Homo sapiens: one gene and its partners. The protein of the gene in region 2 purifies or fractionates together with the protein of the main gene of each other region. This does not show direct contact. Each region holds a gene or a part of one and is shown on either strand. Other genes may lie near its edges.

The links.
Region 1: the proteins of SLIT2 (region 2) and RSRC1 purify together in Homo sapiens (affinity purification with mass spectrometry, with the first as the bait; one large-scale study listed by BioGRID). This does not show direct contact.
Region 3: the proteins of SLIT2 (region 2) and LRRC47 purify together in Homo sapiens (affinity purification with mass spectrometry, with the first as the bait; one large-scale study listed by BioGRID). This does not show direct contact.
Region 4: the proteins of SLIT2 (region 2) and EXOSC7 purify together in Homo sapiens (affinity purification with mass spectrometry, with the first as the bait; one large-scale study listed by BioGRID). This does not show direct contact.

Annotation. Positions count from the first base shown.
Region 1 is NC_000003.12:158,123,213-158,127,088, forward strand, and holds part of RSRC1 (serine/Arginine-related protein 53), read left to right. Parts: intron 1-653; coding exon 654-779; intron 780-3,876. UniProt on the Homo sapiens protein: Has a role in alternative splicing and transcription regulation. Involved in both constitutive and alternative pre-mRNA splicing. May have a role in the recognition of the 3' splice site during the second step of splicing.
Region 2 is NC_000004.12:20,257,964-20,262,215, forward strand, and holds part of SLIT2 (slit homolog 2 protein isoform 1 precursor), read left to right. Parts: intron 1-4,252. UniProt on the Homo sapiens protein: Thought to act as molecular guidance cue in cellular migration, and function appears to be mediated by interaction with roundabout homolog receptors.
Region 3 is NC_000001.11:3,782,999-3,786,874, forward strand, and holds part of LRRC47 (leucine-rich repeat-containing protein 47), read right to left. Parts: coding exon 3,851-3,876; intron 2,206-3,850; coding exon 2,089-2,205; intron 1,114-2,088; coding exon 998-1,113; intron 1-997.
Region 4 is NC_000003.12:45,003,368-45,007,243, forward strand, and holds part of EXOSC7 (exosome complex component RRP42), read left to right. Parts: intron 1-1,923; coding exon 1,924-2,047; intron 2,048-3,876. UniProt on the Homo sapiens protein: Non-catalytic component of the RNA exosome complex which has 3'->5' exoribonuclease activity and participates in a multitude of cellular RNA processing and degradation events.

The DNA.
Region 1 (3,876 bases), on a different chromosome or scaffold from region 2:
GTCAGGCTGGTCTTGAACTCCTGACCTCAGGTGATCTGCCCTCCTCAGCCTCCCAAAATGTTGGGATTACAGGCGTGAGCCACCGTGCCTGGCCTTAATTTTAAATTTTTTTAGAGACAAGATCTTGCTCTGTCACTCAGGCGGGAGTGCAGCGGTGCAGTCATATCTTTTGGACTCAAGGGATCCTCCCACCTCAGCTTCCTGAATAGCTAGTACTAGAGGCATGTGCCACCATGCCTAGCTAAGTTTTTTTATTTTTATTTTTTGTGGAGACTTGGCCTTGCTGTGTTGCCCAAGCTGGTATCGAATTCTTGGCCTCAAGCGATCCTCCTGCCTCGGCCTCCCAACATGTTGGGATTACAGGCATGAGCTACTGAGCCTGGCCTTGGTTTAGTTTTCATACCATATAATCTGATGATATTTGGAAAGATTCTAAGACCCTTAATACCTTAATTAGTACTGATCCAATCACTAAGTTATGAACCAGTCATATGACTGTTCAAGAGAAATAACATTTTAATTTATCTCTGTTTGCTTCCAGGAAACAGTGAGACAGTAAAAATCAGATGATTCTTTAGAATCTAGAAGGTTTTTCCTTAATGCTCATAATAAAAATTTTTATAGCAGTGATCTTTGATTATATTTTATTTCAGACGCAGGCATCGATCAAGCAGTAGCTCTTCTTATGGCTCCAGAAGGAAACGAAGTCGAAGTCGTTCAAGGGGTCGAGGGAAATCCTATAGAGTTCAGAGGTCTAGGTCAAAAAGCAGAACAAGAAGGTATGCCTTATTAAGTATTTATTGCTTTGTAACAAATTATTCCCAAATTCAGCGATGTAAAGCAACAATCATTTATTTTCTTATAATTATATAATTTTGATTGAGCTTAGCTGGCACTTATTTTTTTCTCACCTGGGGTCATTCATGCAGTTAGTCATCTGATAGCTTGATTGGAACTGGATGGTCTAATGTGGCCTCACTCATATATCTTGCATTTGGTTCTGGCTATTGGCCGGGGTGTACGTGGCTTCTCATTGTCCAGTAGGCTAGATTGGGTTTCTTTTTTTCAGCCCGGTGGTGGTAGCACGTGCGTTCCCCAGACATGAGTTTACTAGTATTTTGTTAAGGATTTTTGCGTCAGTATTCATCAGGGACTTATGGCTTGCAGTTTTCTTGTAATATATTTGTCTGGCATTGGTATCAGAGTAATGCTGGCCTGATAAAATGAGTTTGGAAGTACTCCCTCCTTTTCAGTTTTTTTGGAAGATTTTGAAAAGGATTGACATTAATTTCTTTTTAAATGTTTGGTGGAATTCTGCAGTGAAGCTATCTGCTCCTGGGCTTTTCTTTGTTAGAAGGTTTTTGCTTACTGATTCAATCTCCTTGTTAGTTATACGTCTGTTAAGATTTTCTCTTCCTTCATGATTCAGTCTTGGTAGGTGGTATGTTTCTAGGAATTTATCCACTTTTTCTAGGTTATCCAGTTTATTAGCATTCTTAGTAGTCTTTTATAATCCTTTCAATGTTTGTGGCATCAACTGTAATGTCTGCTGTTTCATTTCTGATTTTAGTTATTACGCTTCTGGTATTTTTTCTTTTTCTTTCTTTCTTTTTTTTTTTTTTTGGAGGTGAGGTGTTGCTCTGTCACCTAGGCTTGGGTGTATTGGTGCAGTCAGCTCACTGCAGCCTCAAACTCCTGGGCTCAATGATCTTCTCACCTCAGTCTCCTAAGTGGCTAGAAATACAAGCATACACCACCAGGCCTGGCTGACTTTTTAAAATATGTTTTGTAGAAATCAGTCTTACCATATTGCCCAGGCTAGTCTCCAACTCCTGGTGTCAACTGGTCCTCCCACCTTATCCTTCCAAAGTGCTGGCATTATAGGTATGATCTACCTTGCCCGGCCTCATTTTTTCTTAATCTAACTAAGTACTTGTTAATTTTGTTGTTGTTTTTCAAAAAACTCTTAGTTTTGTTGATTTTTTTCTAAAGTCTTTCTGTTCTCTATTTTATTTATTTTTTTCTCTAATCATTTTTATTTTCTTTCTTTGGATAATTTTTGGTTTAATTTGTTCTTTATTTAGTTCCTTGAAGTATTAAGTATGATATGAGACTTTTCTTTTTTTCTTAAATGTAGGTGTTCATGCTAAAACTTTCCTTTCAGTATTGCTTTTGCTGTTTCTCTTAAGTTTTACTATGTGTGTTTGTGTTTTCATTTGTTTAAAGGTATTTTCTAATTTCTCTTATGATTTCTTCTTTGGTGTATTTGGTTGTTCAAGAGTGTGTAGTTTAATTTCTACATATTTGTGGATTTTCTGATTTTTCTACTGCTATTGATGTCTAGTTTCATTTCTTTGTGTTTCGAAAAGATACTTGCTATGATTTCGGTCTTATTAAATTTGTTAAGACTTGTTTTGTGGCCTAACATGAAATCTGTCGTGGAGAATGTTCCATGTACACTTGAGAAGAATGCATATTTTGCTGCTGTTGTGTGGAGTGTTCTGTGTATTTATGTTAGGTCTAATTCATCTGTAGTGTTGTTCAGGTCCTCTTATGTCTTATTTTTCTGTCCATTATTGAAAGTGGATTATTGAAATACCCTACTATTACTATGTTACTAAATACTTCTCCCTTCCATTCTGGCAATGTTTACTTTATATATTTGAGTGCTCTGGTGTTAGGTGCATATATATATAATTGTTATATATTCCAGAATAATGACCCATTTATCATTATATAATTTTCTTTTTTTCTTGTGACAGTCTTTGACTTAAAGTCTATTTTGTCTTGTGTAAGTATGGCCACTTCTGCTCTTTTTTTGTACCATTTGTATGGATTATCTTTTTCATCTTTTTCAGTATATGTGTGTCTTTACATCTAAGGCACATCTTTTGTAAACAGCATATACTGTAATTGTATTTTGTGTGTATGAGTGTGTGTTTTGAAAAATTCATTCAGCTACTTTTGTGTGTTTTGTTTGGGGAGTTTAATCCAGTTACATTTACAATAATTACTGATGGGGAAGGACTTACTGTTGCCATTTTGTTGATTGTTTTCTGCCTTATAGCTATTTTGTCTCTCATGTCTCCTGCTGCCTTCCTTTTTGTTTTGTTGATTTTTGTATTGACATGCTATGATTTTTTTTCTGATTTTATTTTGTATATGTTCTATAGGTATTTTCTTTGTGGTTGCCATGAGGCTTACACAAAACATTGTCTTTTAAGTTGGTAATAACCTTTGACTTTATACAAAAATACTGCTCTTGTATGTTTCTCCACTTCTATTTTATGTTATTGATATCACAGTTTACATCTTATTGTATCCATTAATATAGCTTATAGTTAGTTATTTTTTATACTGTCATCTTTTCAATTCTATATCTGAATTAAAAATGTTTTACATACCACCATTACAGTGTTAGTGTACTCTGTACTTGTGTATATATTTACCTTTACCAGTGAGCTTTATGTTTTCATGTACTTTTGTGTTGCTGTCTAGTGTCATTTCATTTCCACTTGCAGGACTCCTCTTAGTATTTCTTGTAAGGCAGGTCTGGTAGTGAAGAACTCCCTTAGCTTTTGTTTATCTGGGAAAGATTTGATTTGTCTTTTGTTCTTGTAGAACAATTTTGCTTGATATAGTGTTCTTGATTGACAGGGTTTTTTTTGTTTTTGTTTTTGTTTTTGTTTTTGTTTTTGTTTTTGTTTTTTGCTTTCAGCACTTTGAATATATCACCTGATTCCTTTCTGGCTTGTAATGTTTCCTCTGCAAAATTGCTGAAATCTTATGAAAGCTCCCTTGTGTATGACGATTTACTTTTCTCTTGCTGCTTTCAAGATTCTCTCTTTGCCTTTAACTTTTGTTAATTAGATTATA
Region 2 (4,252 bases):
ATGACAACATAACTGTGTTTTTTAAAAATACTTAAATTTCAAGCATCATGTCTTCAATTTCATGTCTTAGGGTTTGAAATTTTGCAGAAAAAGGAGGATGAATGAGTGGTTTTCAGGTTAATTTATGACAAATAGAGTTCCTGAATAAAAAGTTCTAACTTGTAATTAAGCTCAAAAATACAGTTACTTTCCTGAGACATGTATTTCCTTGATAATCATTGCTTTGGTACTTAAAGATGTACAAGCATTTCTTATTCTTCATTTGATTTGTTTTATTTGCTCATGTAGGAAGAAAGGTGGTACTTTTATTTGCGTTAATGGTGCATTAGGGAAGAGAGAAGTTTTGCTAATTGTTATTTTCATTTTCATGGTGGTGCTTTGTGTGTTATCAGTGACATTTGATGAAATATTTTATATTTTACTAATAAAGATTTACTTTTTTATATTTAGCGTGGTGAACATTGTTATTGTTAATAATTACTTTTCAGTTTTATTTTATTTGGCCCTAGCTTTAAAAATATTTATTCTGGAAAAATAATCTAAACATTATGAAAGTAAGAACTGTGTTATCAAATTGTGGTCATTCAAAGTTGGTTTTCTTCCCAAGAAGATTAAATGTAGACTTCAGATTTTAAGATACGTTTTTTACATATTACTTGAGGACTTTAAAAATGTTTACAGTATATATCTGCAAAAGACAAAACCTCTGTCTGAAATAATTAAGATAAATTACAGACCTTGTAATTGAAGTACGAATTGTATGTCTTACATGCCTTGATTATTCAGGTTTGATATGTTTGCATTTTGAAGGCAAAGAAAAGCTCTAGTAAAAGAAACAACAATTATTTTAATAAGTTTTCATGCCTGCCTTAATAGTCACTTTAAGTAAAAATAATTTTTTTCAAAAAATAATAAAATCTAATGTTCATTTTAAGCTTAACACATATTCAGGTTCACTGGGCAAAAGGGCAGAAGTTAATTCCCTGTAATTGTCCATAAGTAGAAAAATGGTTTGTCCCCTTCCAAGATATTTATAAATATATAGACTATATTTTTATCACCTCAAGTAAAACACAGAAATGTCTACTTTATTTTACTATTGGTCTTTCTCTATGTTAAATATTACAATACAAGGACTATAATTGTGGAATTCAAAATAAATTTAAAATCACTACTTTCAACTAATTTTAGAGGGAAATTAAAATTGGTAAACATTTGGTTGCATTCATAACAAAGCTTATAAGTTCATAGCCTATCTCTAAATATATAAAAAATACTCTGAAAGTATTTATTCTTTGATCTCCTTGATAGACTATGTGATTAGCTAATTCCTAGTAAGTAACTTGCAAAGATATTTTAATCTTTAAGAAAGCATCAATATAATTCAAATGTTTGGTAAAATGAATAGATAATTTAAATTATCATTTAAACTTTATGTTTTCAAGAATAACTTTTAGTCACCACAGGAAAGTATCTTGAGTTTAGTTGTTAACTTCCAAACCATTGAAGGAGTTTTGATGGCTTTTTATGCAGTCTCTATTTTGGTTATATTGTTGTTTTAAATATTTTCAGGGACACTAGAACTAAACAAACTTTCTCATTCTTTTTCAAGTCACTTCAGAGTGTTGTCTGAACTTTCATCTTGAATAAATTAACTTTTCCTAAAACTTATTAACCAGATGCTATATGCTCTGAAATTTGATTAGAGTTGTAAGTAGGTACTATTTTTTGACTTTTACTTCCTCTGGGAATGTCACTTCATCTCAGAACAATTTTCTATTCTACTAAGACTAAGTCAGATGTTTCAGAGTGGGAGGAGGATTTGTAATTCTGAATGAAAACTAATATATATGCAGGACTTCTTTAAATCACCCCAGCTGTTGGCCAAGAGCAAATATTTCATATTTGTGAGGAAAAGCTGAGAAAATTCCTTTTGTTTACAACTGCCAAATCCATCTGATGGAAGCACATTGTTATCTGACAGCCAATTCATTTCCTTGGACTCTGGAATTCAAAACCATTTCTTAGGAACATTGTGGATACACTTTTCAAATATTTATTTTTTAAAAATACATTAAATGGCAAGGCAGGTTTGCTAAGGAATGCATTCAAGTTATTGTGAAACAAACTATTTTAAATTTTGTTCATTGTATTGATTTAAAAAATAAAAACTACAAAAACCCCAAAACTACCCAGAGAGTTCCATAATCAAACTGCTATGGCCTGTGGTATATATCTTTATTTTAGTCAGTGTCATTAACACCAAAAAATTGCTTGCTTTTTCAAAAGCTGCAAGAGACAATGTGAGAGACAAGAAGAAATCAATAAATTAGCTTTTTATTATGTATTGTGTAAATTTATATGGTTTTTAAGAATTTAGTTGTGAAATTTAAAATTGGAACTCAATTATGAAAAAAGTATAAAATTAGGTTTATGTTGTAAATCCCATTTATATACTGAATAGTGATTTAATTTTTATTCCTTGTATGAAGAACAAAATAAAATAAAAACATTAATTTTATTCTTGTGTAATTTATGGTTTTAAGTTATTTTCATTTTAAAATGATAAAATAATTCTAAATTACATTTTGTGAATATTTCATAGTTATACATTTTTCTTTTTCTTTTATTTTATGTTGATGGACTTTTAACTTGATCTATAGAAAAATCTGAAAACAGAAGATAAAGATCTGTACCTTTTAAAAATTCAGCTTTTTAATCTGCAAGAAACAGTCATGTTGTTGATTTGAATTTAATTGTAGCATGGAATGGCAAAGTCATTATTTGCAAATCAAAACATTATAGCTATAAAAGATAGTTTTCCCTTTCAAAGAGTGGATGAAATACAACATTTTCAGATAAACTGTCAAGGAGTTAATAGTAAAATACCTCCTCCTTTCTTTCCTCCTCCTCTCCCTCACCTCCTTCTTTTTTTCTTCCATTTTCTTTTCTTTCTTCCTTACCTCTCTAACTAGCTCCTTCCCTCCCCTCTCCTCCATTCTCTTACAACATGAGATAACACATCATTGTCAGAATGTGGTTGTGCATCACTGTAAAAGGAGGAAGTTGTAATCACGTCTGCATACCACGAGCACACATTATTTTCTGTTTTGACAGTTTGTTTCTGCACTCTCAGACCTAACATGTGCAGAGTCACATTTCCTAGGATGCTCTGTATTGCTAGTGGTACCTGTTTATCTGGGATGAAAATGAAGCCTTCAGTATGTGCCTTATATAGACTGTATTAGCAGGTCTCCTGTTGTTTAATCAAAAAAATTTTCAAATGAAATGTACTCTACCTAGATGACCAGTTAATTCAATGGAAATTCGGATAAAAAAGTCACAAATAAGCTGCAGTAAGAATCAGGACACTTAGGAAGTATATTTCTTTTATATACCTCAAGGAAGATACCTGTGTATATCTGCAATAAATTCTCCATGCAAAATTATTAATTTGAGTTTTTTTTGGATGCTGCATAATGTCCTAGAGGGTTAAAAAAATAACACTGGGACCCAGCAATGCTGTGGGCTTGTGTAAAATTCTCTTGTTCACACACTGTTTATGGGATTAGATACTACAGTCATTCACTTCTATTTTATGGTCTTTTAGGGGGACCCAGATCATGTCAGGGTTCCACTAGTGAAAACAATCTTCTTTTGAAATTTCCTTGATAATACAAATGCAAAAGTATGAGAAAGTTTTTGAAATTTTTTAGGGTTGTTATAGGATGTTTTATTATTTACTCCAAGACTGAAAAGTGAAATGCATATATGCCTAGGTTATGTTGGTAAGAATCAGTAGCATACTGTGAAAAGTCTTGGATATTAGGCTTTGTGTGAACACCGCAACCATCTTGTAACCTTAAAATAAGAAAATTGTGGAAATAACAAAGGCAGGCATGTGGAGTGTTCATCTTTTCCCACCAATACTTGGTAAATGTGTGCTTTTAAGACAAATATTGCTTTAACTTCTCCTAGTGTTAGTATAATTGGGTTTGAAATGACATTTTTCCCACTAGCTTTGTCATTTGATACTCATTTATGCTTGAAAATGAGCTCTGAAAATATTATTATGATAAAGCCATGTAAGGAATCTTGAACAGTCAAGCTGTTAACTTAGACATTTAAAGTTTCCAGCAAGTTGATATAAAGAACATATTCTTTTTAAATTAGAAAAGTCTAAGTCCCTTTACAGTGGAGCCTACATTTGACTAAACACTACATTCTAATGAGATGGTATGTAAAAGACAAA
Region 3 (3,876 bases), on a different chromosome or scaffold from region 2:
CCCAGGTCAGAAACAGAGCAGGACAAAAAGCTCCGGTGCTGATCAGTAGTGGGACTGCGCCTATGATTAGCCACCTCACTCCAGCCTGGGCAACATGGCGCGACCACATCTTAAAAAAAAAAAAAAAGAAAAAAGGCACAGCTGGGCGTGGTGGCTCACGCCTGTAATCCTAGCAGTTTGGGAGGCTGAGGCAGGCAGACTGCTTGAAGTCAGGAGTTCAGGACCAGCCTGGCTAACATGGCGAAACCCCGTCTCTACTAAAAACACAAATATTAGCCAGGCATGGTGGCAGGCGCCTGTAATCCCAGCTACTCGGGAGGCTGAGGCGGCAGAATCGCTTGAACCTAGGAGGTGGAGGTTGCAGTGAGCCAAGATCGTGCCATTGCACTCCAGCCTGGGCGACAAGAGTGAGACCCCATCTCAAAAAAAAAAAAAAAAGCACACACCTGAAAACATACCTAAAGGGTAAAATGGACGACTCAAAAAGTTCTTTACACAAATTAAGTGTAATATCAAGGGCCCAAGCATAACAAGCTTCAAAGAACAAAGTATTCTGAAGCCTGTGTTTACAGAAATCACTGGGCTAGTTACGGATGATCATCTTGCTTAGAGCAGCACCAAGGACCCTGACTTGGATGATACCCAACAGCGCACGGTATGGATAAAATGCTGTGGGTTGGGCTGGCATTTATGTCTGTTTCCTAATGGCTAGTTTATATCCTGTCCTGTCCCATCCTGAGGGCCACCCGCCCCCTGTGGAATGGCCAATACCTCCGCTCCTAACACCTTCCACTTCCCTCACGTCAGGGCCATCTAGATGACAGACTGGTTCCACAACGTCTCCTTTGGAAAGAGAATGCTTTCTTTGTACCCTGTTAAGAAGCTTCTGGGTTCTGGTAGCATTAGGCGGTTCCTGAGGAGCACAGACTAACTCAGCTGAGGCCAGCATGCGGCACTCCCCCGGGCCCGGCCCCACCCCACCAGGCACGCTGCCCACCTGTGCAGGCCCGACACACTCTGCCGCTTCTTCTGCTTCCTCTGCTCCTCGGCCTCCAGCTGCAGCTGCCGCACCAGCTCCTTGGCCTTGGCTTCTTTCCGCCCCAAGGGGACAATCTATCGGGCAGAAACCCACAAACTCCACTAGGGTCACAGCCACAGAACTCGCCCATCGTGTCGATTACGGCCTTAAGCCTCAATGAGCCCTCCCGACTCCCGCCCTCATTCATCTCTACAGCAGGCAGGGAGCATCCCACGGGACCACGCAGCAAGAAGCTGCATGTGGGCTGCCACTGCAGCGTCCCGGGGAGACCTGACGCCCAAACACACCGATCCTACTGAGGCAGGGCTTAACCTTAAAGCCAGCTCATGCACAACTGTTTCCAGAGGTCTGCCATCCTCAGAAGGCCAAAAGAGGAGAGAAAGGCTGAGCAGCCGGGACCTCGTGCACTCCACAGATTCAACAGCCCAGGACAGCACGACACAGCAACTCACCCTACTGCCAACCCCACGCAAACGGTTTTACTATCGGGACAGAGACCAAAATTTCTGATTAAAAGGTAGTGAGCGAGTGAAGGAAACCATTTTCCCAACGACTGCTCATCCGCCGAGTCCTCTCACAGCTGTGCACCGCTTCGAGTAACCGCAAACGCGGTCTGTTTCATTATTTCATGTCTTTGCAAGAACAGCATCGGATCCTACTCTAAAGAAAATGTTCAGGCCGGGTGCGGTGGCTTACGCCTGTAATCCCAGCACTTTGGGAGGCCAAGTTGGGCGGATCACCTGAGGCCTGGAGTTTGAGACCAGCCTGACCAACATGGAGAAACCTCGTCTCTACTAAAAATACAAAATTAGCTGGGCGTGGTGGCACATGCCTGTAAACTCAGCTATTCGGGAGGCTGAAGCAGGAGAATCGCTTCAACCCAGGAGGCAGAGGCTGCAGTGAGCCGAGATTGTGCCACTGCACTCCAGCCTGGGCAACAATGGAACTCCATCTCCAAAAAAAAAAAAAGTTCGGGCTGCAGTAGCAGCATGGCGTCTTTCGACACCAAGGAGACTCTTCAGCAGACCCTGCAAAGGAGGCTGCAGCACCTTGAGGTCCTGTGGGGGCCGGGCGCAGTACAGCAGGGGCCCTTTGACGGCACGGAGCTCGTGGGTGGCAAGGGTGGCAGCCGTCCTCTTCTCACAGAGATCTTCGTGGAGCTTGGTCTGTAACACAGAAGCAGTGATGAGCAAGGTCTCTTGTGCCCTGAAGCCCAGCGAGGTGTCCACACTTCACCCTTGGCTGGGCTGTGTGCCAGGAAACCCTCCCGGTCCAAGGTCTTCACAACCACGCCACGCCCCTTTCCGAGACAGGGCTCCCCTCCAACTCCTCTCCACCCGGCCAGCCAGGCACTCACTTTGTGGAATCACCATCAGGAAAACTATCTTAACCTATCAATCAGCAGACTTTCTTCCTTCTCTAATTCTGACATAATATTTGAGATTTCAAAGAACCCATCTTGAACTAAAATGTAAATAAAGGCTGAGCTTTAAGTTGTAAAGCCCTGGCTGTGATGCCTGTTCCCTTCCTCCCCAAGCTGCAGGCAGGACTCTCACGACAGTCACTCTCGGCCCGCCATGCTCTGTCGCTGCCACTGCGGGGCGCACGAGACTTTCCCCTGGGCACAGAGGTGCTTTATATTTTAAAAGTTGGTCAGGTGTCACAGAAAAGCAACTGGGAAGTTAGTCTTGCCAAAACCTAAACAATTCACAGAAGAATGTGCTGGCAAGAGTTGATGACTTTAATACTGTCTTACATAAAACAAAATGTGTGATTTACTGCAGAAGTCAGAAAACCCACCAAAATATCAAAAAATCAAGGAACCCTGATTTTCCTTTTTTTTTTTTTTTGAGATGGAGTCTTGCTGTGTCACCCAGGCTGGAATGCGGTGGTGCAATCTTGGCTCACTGCAACCTCCACCTCCCAGGTTCAAGTGATTCTCCTGCCTCGGCCTCCCCAGTAGCTGGGATTAAAGGTGCTCACCACCACGCCTGGCTAATTTTTGTGTTTTCGGTAGAGATGGGGTTTCGTCATGTTGTCCAGGCTGGTCTCAAACTCCTGACCTCAGGTGATGCACCCACCTCGGCCTCCTGAAGTGCTGGGATTACAGGCGTGAGCCACCGCACCAGCTGGAACCCTGATTTTCAACTGCAATAAAGCTATCCAGAAATTAGGATAGGCCAGGTGTGGTGGCTGACACCCGTAATCCCCACACTTTGGGAGGCCAAGGCGGGTGGACTGCTTGAGGTCAGGAGTTCAAGACCAACCTGGCCAACATGGTGAAACCTCATCTCTTTTAAAAATACAAAAAAATTAGCCAGACATGATGGTGAGCACCTGTAATGCCAGCTACTCAGCAGGCTGAGGCAGGAGAATCACTTGAACCCAGGAGGCGGACGCTACAGTGAGATTAGACTGCGCCACCGTACTCCAGCCTGGGAGACAAAGCGAGACTCCTTAAAAAAAAAAAATCAGGATAAACCGTTAACACCATATGTGGAGGAGCAAGGGATACGACCAGTGACCAGGACCAACCAGGCCAGGGTGCAGGCGTCTGTGAAGAGGCCATCTCCACGCTGGAGACACCTGCCTCCCGGAGGGGACTGAGGCCTTACCCCCTCCTCAGCAACACCTGAGCCAGAACCTGCTCTATTCCCTTTTTGGAGCTGAGGAAACTGAAGCACACAGACACCCGGCTGGGCCCCATACTCCACTGCTGCTCCTTCGGACACGCTGGCCTCAGGATGTGTCCCAGCTTGCGGCGTCTCACACCTCTGTCCCAGTCATCTGAGGACCCCCACGGGCACCCACCTGCGAGGTGAGGAAGCGCTTGAGTG
Region 4 (3,876 bases), on a different chromosome or scaffold from region 2:
TGTGTGTAAATGGTTGACAACTTGTTCAAATAGGATATTACTTAGTAGAACTTCCTCTGATGGGAAGGCTCCAAATGGGGAAGACCCTTACAGAACTCCTTGGCCCTTGTCAACATTCTCTGGCTGAAGCTCCCCTGATCTGATCTAGATGTTGCCTTGTGTATGGATGGCCAGCAGGGCTCAATCATGGGGGGTTTTGTTAGAGGAACTGGGAAAAGTACTAATGCTGTTTCCATTACAGTAGCTGGATGGACCACCTCTTCCTTCCTGGCTCCTCCAACCCAGCCTGGAGTGAATTGACTTTATAGGTTAAATGTGTTTTTCAGTACCCAGCTGAAGAAACAGAATGTTGCCAGCACCCCAGAAGCATCCCACACCTTCTGTACCCCCATGCAATTACACTCACTGATGATAACCAGCATCTTAAAAGAATAGATTACTTTTGTACTTGATATAAATGGTATCATATACTATGTTCTGTTTTGTGTCTGCCTCATTCACTAAGCATTGTGTTTTGAGAGATCTGTGTTGCTGCCTTAGTCATAGCTTGCTTTTTGCTGTATGGTGTTCCATTGTGTGACTTTGTCCAGTCTGCTGTTTATCCAGTCTACTGTCCAGTCTGCTGTTGTTTATCAGTCTACTGTTGATGGCCATCTGGTTCATTTCCAGTTTGAGGCTATTACAAATAGGGATGGGCATCATGAACATTTTGTGCATGTCTTTGGTGCACATATTTCTCTATTTCTGTTAGGGAGGAGTGTTCTGGGTTATAGGGTATGGCTATCTTTAGTTACGGTAGATGCTGCCAGTTTCACAAAGTGTTTTACCAGTTAACACTTCCACCAGCAGTGTATGTAAGAGTTCCGGGTTGTTTCACATTTTTGTCAACTCTTGCTTTTTTTTTTTGAGATGGAGTCTCACTCTGTCTCCCAGGCTGGACTGCAGTGGCGTGATCTCAGTTCACTGCAACCTCCACTTCCCAGGTTCAAGCGATTCTCTTACCTCAGCCTCCCAAGTAGCTGGGATTACAGGTGTGCACCACCACACCCAGCTAATTTTTGTATTTTTAGTAGAGATGGGGTTTCACCATCTTGGCCAGGCTGGTCTCGAACTCCTGACCTCAGGTGATCCTCCCGCCTTGGCCTCTGAAAGTACTGGGATTACAGGCATGAGCCACCATGCCTGGCGTTTTTTTTTTTTTGTTTTTTTTTTTAATAGTTATTTTGGTTGTGCCTTGGTATCACAGTGTAGTTTTAATTTGCATTTTTAATAGATATTTAAATTGAGCACCTTTTCTTGGTTTATTGGCTACTCAGACAGCCTCTTTTATGAAGACATCCAAATATATTCTACGTTTGAGTCTTTTGTCCATTTTTCTGTTGGGCTGTCTTTTTTTTGTTTAATAGGAATTCTTTATGTAATCTGTCAGGTAGTATTTTATCTCCCCAGATTATATTTTTAGTTTTTAAATGATGTCTTCTGATATACAGAAGTTCATGATGTTATAATTGAATATGTAACTTTTTTCTCTTTCTGTATCCTGTTCAAGAAATAGTTGTCTACTCCAAGGTCATGCAGATGTTTTTTTCTAAATGCTTTATTGTCTTGTCTTTTATTTTTTATATCTATGGTCTATTTGGTATGGCTTCGTGTGTGTGGTGTGAGGTAGGGATTGAGATTCTTTTTTTTCCATTGGGATATCTGATTGACCCAGCATCATTTTCTAAAAGATGCCTTTCCTCATTGCACTGCGGCGCCTCCTGTGTGCTTTTGACAGGGATGACAGGGATGAGGATGATAAAGAATAGGCATAGCGTGTCTTTCTCTTGTGAGACACAGGGATTCCAACTCCTATTCTCAATCTTAAAAAGAAGTTATTTTTCCTCCTCCAAGTGGGAATTTTACTAGTGCTTCTGCTTCCAGGATACCAAGGGTTCGAGTTTTGGAGGATGAAGAGGGGTCGAAGGACATTGAATTGTCAGATGACCCTTATGACTGCATACGACTAAGTGTGGAGAATGTCCCCTGCATTGTCACTCTGTGCAAGGTATAACTTGTATTTTATGGTTTTTGTCTTCCCTGTGGGTGTGGGTCTCCTCTAATCCCAACCTGCTGAGGTTACTTAATAAGTTAAGAAGTTGTAATACCACACACCATATAGAAGTAGCTTTTACCCAAATCCAATAATTTGGTTATACTAGAAACCACTACCACGAGTAGCTCTTTCTTTTCTTTTTAATTGGAAGATATGATGTGGTCCTGGGAGCCATGAGTGTGTTTGTAGTAATAGTAGCCAGAGTTTGTTAAGCTCCTTCCACATACCATGTGCTTCACTAAAGCACCATGTCTTTTAATTACCTCAACTCTATGGGGTCTAGGGTGGTTGAGTAGTGGCAGGGTGGCGAACACTGTCCCCCCTATGAAATGGGAGGTTGGAGCAGGTCTTGGGTATCATGAGTGGTTTTCACATAGAGGGCTGTGGAGCTGAACATCAGGCTGATGTGATATATAACTAATGCTGCCCCAGGCTGTGCAAAGAGGCCTGTATTGGCTATTGACTGGGATTGTAGCTAATTCCACTCAGGATTCATTATCTCAAAATAAAGCTAAACAGGTCAGGTTTAATTCCACTGAAATCACTTCATGAACAGGATGTGGTGAAGTGTTCAGACAACAGGATGGCAGGATGTTGGGTCTTGGCTTTTTTTTTTTTTTTTTTTTTTTTTTTTTGAGACAGTCTTGCTGCAACGCCCAGGCTGGAGTGCAATGGCGCGATCTCAGCTCACTGCAACCTCCGCCTCCCAGGTTCAAGCAATTCTTCTGCCTCAGCCTCCCAAATAGCTGGGATTACAGGCACGTGCCATCATGCCTGGCTAATTTTTGTATTTTTAGTAGAGACGGTGTTTCACCATGTTGGCCAGGCTGGTCTCAAACTCCTGACCTCGGGTGATCTGCCCACCTCAGCCTCCCAAAGTGCCGGGATTACAGGCATAAGCCACCGCACCTAGCCGGCTTGTTCTTTCTTGTTGTTTATTTGTTTTTTTTTTTTTTTTTTTTTTTGAGACAGAGTCTCGCTCTGTCGCCCAGGCCGGACTGCGGACTGCAGTGGTGCAATCTCGGCTCACTGTAAGCTCCGCTTCCTGGGTTCACGCCATTCTCCTGCCTCAGCCTCCCGAGTAGCTGGGACTACAGGCGCCCGCCACCGCGCCTGGCTAATTTTTTGTATTTTTAGTAGAGACGGGGTTTCACCTTGTTAGCCAGGATGGTCTCGATCTCCTGACCTCATGATCTGCCCGCCTCGGCCTCCCAAAGTGCTGGGATTACAGGCGTGAGCCACCGCGCCCGGCCTTGTTTTGAGACAGTGTTGCTCTGTTGCCCAGGCTGGAGTGCAGTAGCACAATCTAGGCTCACTGCAACCTCTGCTGCAACCCCCCCACCCGCCCCGGCTCAACCTCAAGCAACCCTTCCACCTCAGCCTCCCAAGTAGCTGGTACCACAGGCTCACACCACCATATCTGGCTATTTTTTTGTATTTTTGGTGGAGACAGGGTCTTGCCATGTTGCCTGGGCTGGTCTCAAACTCCTGAGCTCAAGCATTCCATTTTCCTCAGCTTCCCAAAGTGCTGGGAGGCATGAGCCGCTGCGCCCAGCCTTTGGCTTGTTCTTGAGTGTGTCCCTTAGCATGGACCCTCTTGATTCCCCCTTGCCATCAGTGAAACGTCCATGTGGCCTTGTGTGTGAATTTCTCCCTTGTGCCCCTCTGTTGGAAAGCCTTGGTGGCCTTTGTCTTGGTTGGTCTCTGAATTCTAGTTTTAAACCACCTTGCCCTGTTTTTCCATATCGTGTTTTTATTGTACCACCCACACAGTGGCCTGT